4 linked regions of the Homo sapiens genome follow. The protein of the gene in region 1 purifies or fractionates together with the protein of each later gene. This does not show direct contact. Each region holds a gene or a part of one and is shown in the gene's direction. Other genes may lie near its edges.

What was found. The genes of interacting proteins can lie anywhere in the genome.
Region 2: the proteins of MAP3K20 (region 1) and PBX1 purify together in Homo sapiens (affinity purification with mass spectrometry; one large-scale study listed by BioGRID and IntAct). This does not show direct contact.
Region 3: the proteins of MAP3K20 (region 1) and TNS3 purify together in Homo sapiens (affinity purification with mass spectrometry, with the first as the bait; one large-scale study listed by BioGRID). This does not show direct contact.
Region 4: the proteins of MAP3K20 (region 1) and MEIS1 purify together in Homo sapiens (affinity purification with mass spectrometry; one large-scale study listed by BioGRID and IntAct). This does not show direct contact.

Annotation. Positions count from the first base shown.
Region 1 is NC_000002.12:173,194,346-173,197,845, forward strand, and holds part of MAP3K20 (mitogen-activated protein kinase kinase kinase 20), read left to right. Parts: intron 1-3,366; exon of another isoform or gene 3,367-3,500. UniProt on the Homo sapiens protein: Stress-activated component of a protein kinase signal transduction cascade that promotes programmed cell death in response to various stress, such as ribosomal stress, osmotic shock and ionizing radiation.
Region 2 is NC_000001.11:164,807,184-164,810,683, forward strand, and holds part of PBX1 (pre-B-cell leukemia transcription factor 1), read left to right. Parts: intron 1-358; coding exon 359-494; intron 495-3,500. UniProt on the Homo sapiens protein: Transcription factor which binds the DNA sequence 5'-TGATTGAT-3' as part of a heterodimer with HOX proteins such as HOXA1, HOXA5, HOXB7 and HOXB8. Binds to the DNA sequence 5'-TGATTGAC-3' in complex with a nuclear factor which is not a class I HOX protein.
Region 3 is NC_000007.14:47,575,612-47,579,111, reverse strand, and holds part of TNS3 (tensin-3), read left to right. Parts: intron 1-3,500. UniProt on the Homo sapiens protein: May act as a protein phosphatase and/or a lipid phosphatase. Involved in the dissociation of the integrin-tensin-actin complex. EGF activates TNS4 and down-regulates TNS3 which results in capping the tail of ITGB1.
Region 4 is NC_000002.12:66,511,625-66,515,124, forward strand, and holds part of MEIS1 (homeobox protein Meis1), read left to right. Parts: intron 1-524; coding exon 525-670; intron 671-3,500. UniProt on the Homo sapiens protein: Acts as a transcriptional regulator of PAX6. Acts as a transcriptional activator of PF4 in complex with PBX1 or PBX2. Required for hematopoiesis, megakaryocyte lineage development and vascular patterning.

The DNA of each region.
Region 1 (3,500 bases):
TCTCATTCTGTTTGTTCTAAATAAACACCATTAATGAGAGAAAAAATACGAGGTATGCTTTCCAGCGACTTTTTATTTAAACAACCACAGGTATTTTTTTAATGAAGAAAGCATTATGTGTTCAAAGTAGATGTTATAGAAAAGAGCAGGTGAGGATAGTTGTTAAGGTTGGGACCATGTTAGTTTTAGAAGTTTGTGGTCCATAAACTTGGAAAATGATACCTATTTTAATTCAAAATGTGGTTATTTTGAATTTTTTATGTCTTTTCAAAAATAGGTGAGTAGCCAAGACTCCTTTGTCAGTAGGAGCATTTATTTGCATTAAATATCCCATTGTTCATTGGGAGTCTGTTCTGTTCATTGAAACCCCCTCTACACACAGCAGTCACATACAGATGAATAAGACCATTAAAAAAAAGGTTTTTTTTTTAAAATCCACCCAAAAAACTGCAATATATTTTTGCTTTTTGTTTTTCTAATTTTTTAGACTGCTGTAAGAATTTAGCCCCTACTACTCCCAAAACCACCAGCCCTCCCCAGGTTGATAAACCTTTGTTGCTTCTTAACAAATGGCAAGACTCACTAACCTTGTACTGCCTTAAAATAAATGTGCTGTGAATGCCAGAAGTGGATTTTATGATCCTTGCTCTTAAGCTGGTAAACTTTGCTAGGGAGGCAATTGTTTCCCTCCATTTTATGAGAAATGAGATTTTTCTACCCTCTTATGAGAACTCTTGGAGGACTGAACCTGGAAGAGTGTTTAGTATGTTATCCACAAAAAAAGAAAAGCAAAAATCACTGAAAGAATAAGCCTTCTGAGAACACAAGGCCTAGCCTCTCTTTAAAAAAAAAAAAAAAAAAAAAGCTATTCTAATGACAATGCAGAAAGGATTACCTTCTTAGAAGCTTCTCAGCCAAAACCAGCCTTGAAAACATAGTGGCTTAAGAGACAGCATGGCTGCCTGGCTTGTCTGTGAGCACTGTTCCAGAACAAGCTGGGCTCAGGTAATGGCTTTCTATTGTTTGGAAAAGAAAGGGCAGAAAAAGTACGTAGTCTTTTCCAAGTTTCTATTCTGTAAACTGAAAACATAAATTTTCCTTGTGAGCACAGTTTAAATGTGAGGACGTCTCAATATAAAATGAGTCGGAAAATATTTTTAAGGTGAAAGATCACAATAATATTTGGCCTGAATCCTCATAACTGGTATTTTTAGGCATCATTTAATATATTTTTAGACCTCCAAGTGACTTCCTCAGTAAAGTTACTTTTGTATGCCAAATGTTATTTTTGTTTAGTGTGGAAAAAAAAAGCTGATGTCCTATCTTATACCACCTGCTTTTTGATACATCCCCAAATCCAGGGAATTAATAAAAGGAAATCATGAGATGTGCTGATACTGGAATTAAACTAAAGACCTCATTTGGGCTTCAGGACATAGCAGCTAATGACCCCACCTCAGACACTTTTACATCCATCAAGTAACTCCCTCAGCTGTAGTAGCTCTTCAGAGACACAGAGGGAGTCAAATGGAATTGGCTTATTTTTTTCTTTATTTTTCACGGTTAGAGCTCTCAGAGAAATATAACTTAAATTTTATTAGATTTTGGACATTTTCCAGCAGAATATTTTGGAATCAAGAATGACGTAAATGTTTTTCTGGTGTTGTCCCCCCAAACTCTTGGATTTGCAATTTACTTCACAAAATTCAGTCTGTGCATGTGTGCACACATGTACACGGCGTGTTTATCATACCTGCAGGCCAAACTCAGAAGAGGCACTGCTCATCTGTGCGTTTGGGGGTCTGGAGCGTTTGATTTATTGGAGGCTAACTCCCTGTTCCCATTCTCCTTAGGAATGCCACATCCATTAATTTACTTGCCCTTCGTATCTTTTCCCCTCCCCAGCCCTAGCCCCCTGTGGAGTGGTAATTGCAGCCAAATGAGGGGCTCCATTTCCTGCTCAGCCCTCTTGCTGCCCAGCCTCCCTCCCTGTGTAGGTCAGGGTGATTGCATACCTGTTCTGTCACCCTTCCTTTACGTGTGGTGTTCACTAGAATTGTCCCCTTGTGGGATGCCCCTTACCTTTTCCTAATCACTTGTGTGACTCAAATAGAATTATTCAGTAGCTCCTCTAAAGGAGTACCTTACACACTTGATTAAAAGCCCAAAGAGGCTTCAGTGAATTTTTTTTCTCCTGCTTGAGCAGCATCTGCCAATTTCCCTGATTTTCCTGCTAATTATCTTCGTATTAGCCAGAATTCATTTACTGTGTTATGGTTGAAATGAGACTGAGCACTGGCTGAGGAAATAGTGGATATGGAGTGAAAGGTTTCTATGATTTGCTTGACTAGAGAGTATGTGTGCTCCATCTACGTTCCTATTAGAAATGAGCTTTTGTTTTTAAAACAAGGGAAATCTGAGTCGAAGCCACTGGTTCTCTTCCTGCTTCTCCCAGGGCGCCATACCTAAGACAGGGCCTGTCGCATTCTCTCAAGTACTGTCACTTTCCCTTCACTCACATTAAAAGGAGTCAAGAGCCTGACCTTTGGGGTGAGCCAGCAGGTTCATAGTCTGGCTCTGTCACTGGATAACTGACTGTCTTTGGGCAAGTTTTTTTTTTTTAACTTTTTAAATAGTTACCTCACCTATAAAATAAGGGTAAGATGTATCCAGTAGGATTGCTATTAATCATGGTAATATATGAAAAGGGCATCTGGAATATAATAAGTACTCAATAAGCGGTGGTGGTTTTTATTATTAGGACTATTACTGATAAAACTAGAATTGTTTTTGCACTTTACAGAGTATTGGTAGACTCACATTTTTGAACTCCATTTGTATAAACAGGGAAAAGTAACATAGTATACAAATCTCCATTACTCAGTGTTTCAAGAGAACCCAAAATCAGCAGTATTCCTAGCATCAATTTGCTTTCTTTGGGCATTCCACTCAGATTTAATAATCATACTGATCTCAAGAACTGCACAAAGATGAACACACACATAAGCTCACTTTCACATAGTCAGCTTATATGTATAGAAAGTGTTTATTACATCTTAGAGTATGGTATAATAGATTATATTGTAGGTAGATGAAAATAGATCCCTTAGACCGACTCATTTTGCGGGAGATTTCTCCAAAATCTAAAATGTAACTTGTAAAATCTAAATATTACAATTTTGCAAGTATCTACCATTGTGGGGTAGGTAGGTTAGCCAGTGATTTGGATTTGGGGCTCAGTTATTTTTGATGAGACCATTATTGAACCTTTTAAAATATTGTTGAATTCCCAGTTATTATTTCCTAGACAAATGTATCAGAAATTGAAGGTAGAACGAGTTTTAACTAACAAAATATACAATCTAATTTGTGAGAACATAAAAATTCTGATAATTTATGAGATGACATTAAATCAGTCAGGCCCATTGGTTTCATAAAATTTTAAGTCTGGCTCTAGATGTCCTAATTTCTAAACCAGGTTTTTTCTTTATAAAAAAGAA
Region 2 (3,500 bases), on another chromosome or scaffold:
GAGGTGGAGGTTCCAGTGAGCCAAGATCACACCACTGCACTCCAGCCTGGGTGACAGAGTGAAACTCCATCTCAAAAAAACAAACCAAGATGGCCCGAATTTTGAAACTTTATACTCCTCACTACTCTGCAAAAATATCTGTGACCACTCTTCTGTTCGGTGCCCAGATGGTACACAATGAAGTATTGAGCAAATGCTTTTAGCGTTGGTTTTGGCATCCAGCCCCTTTTGGTAAATCTGCTCCAAATTCACCTTTTGCTCAAAAATTTGTCTTCTCCCAGAAGTAGATTTATTCTCTCCCATTTTATATTTATTTGGTGTGAGCCTTTTTGTTATTATTTCCTTTCTCTTTACAAAGGCGGAAGAGACGGAATTTCAACAAGCAAGCGACAGAAATCCTGAATGAATATTTCTATTCCCATCTCAGCAACCCTTACCCCAGTGAGGAAGCCAAAGAGGAGTTAGCCAAGAAGTGTGGCATCACAGTCTCCCAGGTAAGCAGCACCTCAAAAGCCTCAGCCTGTAGCCTGGCCATGGCGGGGCCTCCGGGGCAGGCTCTTAGAGGTCTTGCTTTACTGGACATTCATGCCTTGCAAGTTCCATCAGCTATAGCCTTAAAATATCAAGGTAAGCACTTGATGTGTATGCGTATAAGTGAGTTTCTAGGTAAGTACTTGGCAAAACTTGAGAAGAACCAGCAGAAGGAAGAGAAGAATAAGTAGAGTACAATGTAAAAACAGGATTAGGGTTCTTCCCATCGAGCACTCCTTTGCTTCAAATGGGTGAGGTGTCTAAAGTGTACTAGGAAAGTTATCTGCATTCCTCATGCTGTTTTTTCAAATTCAGTCAATTCCTTAGCCATTTTTTGCCCAACCCAGGAACTTTAAGAGTCAGTGAATGGAACTAGTTGTTATATAGCCTTTTAAATGAAAGAACTTAAATGTCTCCTCTTGATGTGCTGACTCTATAACTGATGGGAGTGTAGGAATTTTAACATGTCACTGCGATTACATTGGAATGGTGAACAAAATGTCACTGAATGCCCCCTTCCCCCAAAGAGCAATAACCATAACAGGTGGTGTCTGATGACTTGGAAAGATACATGACATAAAATTTTTATAGGCCTAGAGTTTTCAACACGAATATGAAGCAGAGAAGTAGGCAATAATTATGTGTACGTGTATTTTGTCCACTCAAAAGATCCACCCAAACTTCTTATTCAGTCTGAACCTCAAATACCACCACTGGTTTCTAATTGAGAACCATAGTGATAATTCTGAAATCTATCGGAGAAGGTTTTTCTTAGAATTTTGTCACATGCAGGAGAATTAAATGTACTGATATTTCCATTAAAACTGGGGAGGGGAGGGAGTAGTGAAGGCTACTGTAGCGAGAAATTTCACTTACCATTTTTCAAATGAAGTAGATGCTCTTTTATATAAACTAAGCATCTGTACCTCCTTGAATTGAATCCTGACTTCTGTTAATCCCTGCAGGGTGCTGATCCCATCAACCTGTGTTTAGCTGTACAGAATTAGGTCCAGTCAGAATATAGAGCTCCACAAAAGTATTGACAATGAAGGGACTGTCCAAGCCTTCCCAACAAACTAAGATGATTTTACAGCAGCAAATATCCTTGAAAACATTCTTTCAGATAAAGCAGAATGAATTGACTCCTTTTTAACCTGGGCCTTCCTTAGGTGCTTTGACCCAGCTGGAGGTCATTTTTAGTCTTGACAGTTCTGGGAAACGGGAACGTCAGCGGTCAAACTCAAGTAGCCTAGTTTTTTCTAGGGCTGTCACCATTCTTATCCAAATCTAAACCCCTTTTCCACAAAAAAGGGAATTAATGCTTTTTGATACTTGCTACATGTTTGAGGAATGCTTCTAGGTATGGACCACAAATATGCAGCAAATATCAAATCACTGAATTTTATCATGGAACCTTCTGCTTTTAAAATATAATTAAATTACTACTGTCTGAATTCCAAGTGTGGAATTCAGAATTTCAACTTCCTGTTGAAGGTAAAAGGAATTCTCCTGGAGGTAATTTGTAGTATAGCTGGATACAAGTTAAAATCCTGATCTGTTCCCGCAACCTTCACTTCCTTCATTATGGAAACTCAAGGTACAAATAGTGTGTCCATTAAAATCCTTATTTACATATTGTGTCACCTTTCCCTTTCCTCTGTCCATGCCAAAGTCATGCCATTCTTTCTTCCCCATCACATCTGTCTCTCCCCAAAGCAACTAAGCTACCATTGCTAAACAAGTCCAATGGAAGACAGTATAATATGATGTCATAGAAGGAGCATTAAGCAAGGAGCCTATTTTTGACAAGAGTCAACTGTGGGATCCTAGGGAACTCACTCTTTCTTTTTGGATCTTAGTTGCCCCATTTACTAATCATGGTTTGTTGGATCACATGATTTATTAAATCTTTCTCCTAATTCCCAAAGCCAGGGAATACCTCTTGGGCTGTATCATTATTGTCTTTTTTTGAAGTCACAAATTCTTTTGAAATCTACTAAAAGCTATTGATTTCCCCCATGACCCAAAACAAAGATATGTTGCCCATACACCCAAATCCATCTGAAATCCGCCTATTGACTGTATCTCCTCAGATCCCTAAAGAGCCCTTTTTCTATACCAGAGCTACTCTAAGTGTGATCCACAGAATGCAGCATCAGCATCCCCTGGGAGCCTGTTAGAAATATAAATTCTTGAGTGTCACCCTAATTCTGAATCAGAATCTTTGAGGGTGAAATCTATAATAGAAATTTGTTTTAACAACTTCCCCATGAACACTTAACTTTGAAAAGCAATGTTCTATATGCTTTATCTGAGTGATCTTTTCCATGCTCACAGCTACAAATAATACCTCCATTTGAATACCTAATGGAACTTCTCCCCTGCAGCACCAAACTCATAAATTTTACTTCCTAATGGACTTCATCATGGCTCTGCCCAGAGGTTCTTCAAAATTAACTTGTTCAAAATGTGAATCAAACTCTTCCCATAAAACCTACTATTCTTTCTGTATTTCATGTCTCATTCTGTGTCTGTTATCTATACATCCCTAGTGCCTAACGCGTATTAGGCCCTTAGTCCATGACTGTTGAGTAATTAGTTCATTCATGATAACACTCATTTTATACATTGTCCAGATCATTGTCTGTTGGACAATGCAGGAAGTCCCTGAACTGACCTAGCACCTTCCTACCAGTTCCATTGTTGTCATTTAGAAGGGTATCATTCCCACAACATGTCCCCTCTTTACCCCCTTCAGCTCATATTTTTTTTACATATAATTGGACCTCAGGTATTTCTTCTTCAAAAGTCCTCTGAAATTATCTTCATCTTTTTCCCTTTTCTTTCAGCTTGTGCAGTTATCTGAGAAAAAAAATCTCCTTACCTTTTTTCTTCTTTTCCTATCCCATAAATCAAAAAGCAACCATAATTATGACTGATTCCTATGAATAGTGAAAGTTATGTCAAGA
Region 3 (3,500 bases), on another chromosome or scaffold:
AAGAGTATTAAAAACCATCACAACATGGAACACAGTTCTTTCTTTCTGCCCCCACAGTGAAGGGCGTGTTGCGTGGCTTCATCTTCACAGGGATCATGGCTCACAGTTGTGTCGTTTCCACGCTGCCTCACTGCTCCTAAAACGCTGAGACAAGAAAAATCGCTGCCACCAAAATGCTGCTGAGCAGGACTAAATTCTCCTAGATTGAGGGCGTTTTGAATCTTAGAGTATGTTGAATCCGGATGCAGGCCCGTGTCCTGCCGTGGGGCTTTTCGAGTGCAGCTCGGGCAGGAACAGTGGTTTCCTTGATGTCTATCCGTTTCTCGTAAAAGCAGAAAACTAGACTCTCCAAGTTTCGTGAGCTTTCTGTTTGTACTCTGTGACTCAGGAATGTGTTTGGTACACATCCATCACTGCAATGTGGGATGTAGTGCTGAGCTCAGGGTCCCTCGGGTGTCTCCATTGTCTGCATGGCGGCATCTCCTGTCCTGCTCAGTGTACTCCAGGAGCACCGTGGCCCTCTAGACACACCTCTAACCACCGCCCCCCCCCAACCCCCTGCCCCATGCACCTGGCGCAGCTCTACCTGGTATCCCTCACCTGTTGCCTCCTACCCTCGCTGGGAGTTGCCTCTGCGAAACAGGAGGGAGGAGGCCAGTGAAAATGAGGGTGACTGAGGATGGGGGCCATCAACTTGGGGATGAAGCACTGCACACAATTTAGGGTCCCTCGGAATGCCTCACTGTGTCAGGGAAGGGGAGGATTCTCACATGCTTCTTTTTATTTTTTTATTTTTATTTTTTTGAGATGGAGTCTTGCTGGAGTCCAGGCTGGAGTCCAGTCGGGCCATCTCAGCTCACTGCAATCTCTGCCTCCTGGGTTCAAGCAATTCAGCCTCAGCCTCCCAAGTAGCTGGGATTACAGGCGCATACCACCATGCCCAGCTAATTTTTGTATTTTTAGTAGAGATGGGGTTTCACCTTGTTGGCTAGGCTGGTCTCGAACTCCTGACCTCAGGTGATCCACCTGCCTCGGCCTCCCAAAGCGTGGGGTTACAGGCGTGAGCCACTGTGCCCGGCCGATTTTTTTTTTTTTTTAGAAGGCAGTAGTCTACTACTCTTTTGTCTCCTGGGCAAAATGAATGAAAGATTATACTGAAGGATTCTATGTCTGTGATCTAGAAAATTCCCTCTGGCAGAGGGAGGTGCTCCCAGAGCTAGGGAAGTGCTCCTCAGAGCCACCCCTCAGGGGAGAGACCTCTCTGTCCCTGTCTCCACCCCAGCGCTGGGCAGGAAGCCCTGGGAGCCCTCTGCAAACAGCCCGCCAGCTCTCAGCCTAATAACGCGGCTAACAAGACCCCCTTCCTTTTACTACTCAAGTACCCAAGGTGGCTTGGGCACTTTCTGTCCCTAGTCTGATCGTTGCTGAACCGTGCATGTATGCCATCCTGATGGTCTCCCTTTTCTGGAAGAGAGCGCTGAGACTTAGCGAGCTCAAGTAACTTGTGTGTGTTGTGAGGATACTGAGCCTTGGATCTGAATCCCGGTCCGTCAGCAATGCTTGGAGTTCTTGCCAAGATGAGGGGTTTGTGCAGTCCCCACCCACAGCCCAGCCCCTGGAGTGGCCAGGCCAAGGCTCAGGAGCTGCGGCGTGCCTGCTGTCTACCTCAGCCAGTGCGCCAGCCCCAGCTGCTTCCTCGGACCCCAAGGCTGGGCCTTTCTTTACTCTTCCTTCCTCCCTCAGCTCTAATTATGGTTCATGTTAGATTGTCTGCCCTTCCTCTTCCTCTTCTCTTTTGGGGAAAGATAATAGCACTTAATACGCCCTTTGCAGGCCTGGCTTTGTTTCTAAGATATCAGAAGAATCTTTAGGAATCTTTCTTCCAGCTGCCCAAGCGAGCGGCAACCTGTCGGCACCCAGGAAGGATGAATACGGGTGCCCTGCTGACGATTACAAGTGCCACTCCTAGCCAGGCCATGCCCCTGGGGACACCGGGGACACCTCCAGGTGGACTAAAGTGTGTCACCTCCTTTCATTGTGTCTTGGCAGCCACAGTGTGACGTGGCACCTCTTGTGTGTAGAGTTTATGAAACTGCTCCTGAAAAGTAGAGACCAATTCGTTGATGCTTTGAATACACTGGAATACACTCGTGGCGATACTGAAAGAAAGAAAGTCCTCGGGAAGTGTCTGGCCAAGGCCGTTCACTGCCGTCTGCAGTTGCTTTTCTTTTTACAGGAGAGCCCGGGCTCTGCTCCAGGCCCTGGGATTATTTCTCGCTGGAGGATTCAGGAATCTGCGCTCTCCCCATCACCCTGGAACACAGCTGCAGTGTGTAACATTTCACTCACTTGGAGCCACACAATAAAAGGCACAGGCCCACATCTGGCTGTGCAGGGCAGGCGGGCAGGAGAGTGGGCCCTGGGGCACACTGGGCCATTAGCAGGGGCATCTGCGTCCTGGCCTGTGCACATTCCTCCCTGGAGCGCCGGGCTGGCTCTGCAAACAAAGGGGCCTGGTCCTGGCATTCTTCTCCACCTTGTAATCCATCACCTTTCTTAGAGGTGTCCCTGGGCGCCTACCCCTTTCATCACTGGCCATTTGGGAGGTAGATCAAAGGTACGCACAGGAGGCAGTGACATAGGCCAGGCTCTGGCATCCCACAAACCTGGGGCAGAACTGTCCTTTGTCCTGAGAGGTCCTGGGGTTATTGTGACTGTGTTTGTCATTTGTCACCTGCAGCCTGGGGTTGTCGTTCCTCCACAGGTTTGCTCCTCCACTGGTTCCGGAGCTCAGGGGTGGGAGCCACGTGGGGTTTTGTTTCCTCCTTTTGGGCTCCAGGCCCAGTGTACTTTGGTCCTGCTGAATTTCCATGGCCCCAGGGGCCTGAAAAGCACCTTGTGGTCCTTCTGGAGAACCACTTCCTCATTCTTGGAGGTGCTAATCTGATCCACTGGGAGGGAGCTGTGTGCTAAGTGGTTGACACAGGGGAGGCCAGCGTGATAGAGATGAGTTTTTCTCCAAAGATCAAGGACAGGTGTTTCCAGTTTGTCTCCTCTGGAAAGACCTGCAGAGCCGGGTGGACAGGGCTGGAGGAAAGGGGGCCTGTGTCCATGTCTTGGGTAGGTGCTAAGGGAGACAGGAGGGCTCTACGTGGGTGAAGAATGCATTTCTCTCTTGTCCTGCACGCAGGAGGGAGGCACATTTTTTATCTGTATTACTCGGAGAGTAGCAGAAGACTCTCAAGTAATGAGCATATTTTTGCTGCTTTTTTTTTTTTTTTTTTTTTTTGAGGCAGAGTCTCACTCTGTCACCCAGGCTGGAGTGTAGTGGTACAATCTCAGCTTACTGCAAGATCTGCCTCCCGGGTTCACGCCATTCTCCTGCCTCAGCCTCCCAAGTAGCTGGGACTACAGGCGCCTGCCACTACGCCTGGCTGCCCGGCTAATTTTTTGTATTTTTAGTAGAGACGGGGTTTCACCATGTTAGCCAGAATGGTCTC
Region 4 (3,500 bases), about 110 Mb from region 1:
CTATGTCAAACTGCTTATATGATGGATTACCTACATTTCCCCATCCTAGTTTAACTAGTCTTAAGATAGATCACTTGTGGAAATAGTTGATATCTTAAATGAATCTTCTCACAAGTCAATGTCAATGACTGTGGGATTTGAATGCCCAGGCAGCCATAGCGCCACAGCTAATGACTGCCACCATGTTTAACTCCCCGGTAGGAGTTACACTTAACCTGTCTCAGCTATACATATTGGAATAATTACCATAGCAACAAAGCCACAAGGGGATTGGATATTTCCCTCCATTCCCTTTGACTTTTGGCAATGTTCTTTGGAAGAAGTTCTTTAGACCTGACTGCTCTTGAGCCTAGGCCTTGTTCTTTCTCTGTCTTGGAAAACAAAACACAACAAAAAAACAGTACCAAAGAAACTATTAATCATTTAAATTTGCTCTTTTGGTTTTGTTTATATCCAAAGGCATTCTATTTGAATAAAGCATGTCAAGGTAGCATCAGTCAAAATTTGATTCGCTATGTTTGCAGGTGATGGCTTGGACAACAGTGTAGCTTCCCCCAGCACAGGTGACGATGATGACCCTGATAAGGACAAAAAGCGTCACAAAAAGCGTGGCATCTTTCCCAAAGTAGCCACAAATATCATGAGGGCGTGGCTGTTCCAGCATCTAACAGTAAGTGGATTCTAAATGACATATATAAACTAAATATGGACAATGAACCAGTTTTTATACAAAAAAATGAGAAAAAAGTGATCCCTCTGGACTTGAAATATTTAATAAATAACTGTGTTCCCACAGTTTTTGCAAAAGTATTAGCACTTATTTCTTAGATAGATACCCCAAATGAGAAATTTTATTTAAAATTCACGATTGCGATTTTGTTAACTTTCATAAGTTAAAAGATTTAGGTGTTCATGTGCACTTGTGATTTTAAGTATGTGTTTTAATGATGTTGCTTTTCTAAGTGTGACCCTTAAGTGCTCAGAACCATCTCCTACTAAGAAGAAAGTTAGACAAACCCTAGAGAGAGACTTAATATCTTCTGATGCTTTAGTGGATCTTTACAACAAATGGTCCACAAAAATTTAAATCATGTTGCAATGGCAAGATGATCACATAATTTGCTTTTAAGTGGTTTGAATGCACTGGCTTCCATTACAAAACATTCATGTAAGTCAGAGCTCCACAGTGAAAGTTGTCCCTGTATTTAGAACTGTAAAGGAAAACAGCAATATAGAGTCAGCTCTTCCTGTGTAGTCCCTTGTGACTTTTCAAGCAGAGTAACAGTTTATATTGTCTGTGCCAGTATTGCTGTTTTCACTGCAGGAATTCTCCTGGAGATGTGAGAAACTGGAGATTTGGGGCTTTATGCCACTGGGGGATTTGTTTTGTTTGGTTATTGTTCTGAATGAATTTCATGTTCAAAATATTTATAATAATAATATTTTGGTGGATATTTTTGTAAGTGCATACCAATTTAAAGAAGAAGATACAATGAAGATTTGTGGATAAAATAATATTTTAAAAATCAACAAAATTGTTGACCAGAGGAATTTCAATATTAGAGACAAAGGATGAATTTAGACAGGTTGTAGCAAAGTTACATAGATGGATAAATGTTAAAAACTCTTGAGGGTTGTTTTTTAATATCAGGAGAAAATATTTTGTGTTACTATTTTTGTCTTAGCTTGCTTTTCCTAAAGTCAATTTTTCCTTAAATATTAAAGTTAATCTTGCATTGTCATAAACACTTGCAGAGCCTGTTTACCTTCATACCTGGGCCCACATTCAAAGCCATGTTCCTCAGTGAGTTTTACGGGTACAGAGATACAAACTCAGGGGATGTCTGCAGGTCATGTTAGTTCTGCTCCTCTGGATAGAGGCTGTGCCTCTAATAATACTCAAGGGTATAAATTAATCCAGATTTTCCAGCATCAGTGAATAAGATAAAAGCTGAGAGCAGCAGGAATAGCTAAAAAAAAAAAAAAGTTTCCTCCCTTCTCTTCTTCCCATAATAATTCCAAACAGTATCTAGACTACACTACAGTTTTTGAGTAAACTTCAGGGCTTGGCTATGCTGGAAATTAGTTGGAGATTTAGATTATTTGAGCTGTTTTGATTTTAACATCATATTAGGTTTACCTAGAATCTGATTCAGGCACCACTACTTATCTGACACCTGTTGCATGTGTGTAGATATTTCAATATCTGACTCCTGCAAATTCCCCACTGAGGATTATCAATCACTAATGAACTAGGGGAAAGAGGACTCAGGTCTTGAGGGCATATCATGAAAAACGAATGATATGACATTTAGATAAGAAGTGGCAATTGGTCAAAGGTGTGGTACAATGATGCTGATGCAATGATGCTAATATTTTATCTCCAGAAATAACCAGCTAACTCGCTGTGTGGAATGAGTTGGTGTGGTGGATAAAATCAGGTTGGCCCTGAAGTCACAATCAAATAATTTCTATTTCCTATAGACTAACAGAAACAATGAATAGATTTCTTCAGCCCCCATCTCAATCTGCAAAGGAGTTTTGGCTTTACTTGAAGCTGAGGTGCCCCTGAATAAAATATAATCAAATATTGGTTCAGACAGAATCAGGAGAGAGAGAAGCAAGCTATTTTATGCAGCCACTAGTTTTCCTGTTTTTCTAGGTTGTACCCTTGTGAAGACCCTTGCATAGAGCTACATTATCTTCTTGAAACAAACAAACAAACAAAAAACCCAAATAAACTTTCTAACAGCCCGCATGATTTTACATGCATTGCATTGCTTATATGGACTATGTGTTTGTTACTGGGGCAATTGTAATCGAAATTATTCATGAACTGCCTGATTTCTTGAGACCTAAATAATAGTCTTCAGTTTTGAGGTCTTTGCTGGCCTGTGCCACTGCCCTGGAAGGGGAAGCCCATTCATCCATGTTTCCCCAGCTTTCTGTGAATGTTTATAGGTGTTACCTTGTGGTTTCCATTGGATATTTCTACCTCCATTACCCACTCCAATGCCATCTGCTCATACAGAAATATTGATTAATGATAATGGTCTGTAGATAGCTAATTGTTCTTATAACATCATCTGAAGAGCAAAGTTAAGAGATATGTTTAAATTTTTCATCTTTTCCTTCCCCCAATGAAAAAGATTCCTTCCCACTTCTCTAATTGCAAGAGCAAATAGACCTCCAGCTATAAGGAACACCCGTTACCCTTGTTTTGTAATCCTTCTTGAAGGAATGCATGGACTGCTTAGGTAATATTTATAGTAAGGAGCTAATTTTAATAAATTCTATTTTAAAAACCTATAGAATCTAAAGAGAGTTTTGTTGTTGTTTGTCTAAATGTAAGTAACCACTGACATCTCAGTACTAATTCTTTAGTGACTTTATTTCAAGTTCTGGGAGGTCTTCAGGGATGCACAATTCATTAGGAAGACTGTACAAATTTTAAATGGTCACGTCATTGCTATGTGATTAATGCAACTTATCTAGGAAAT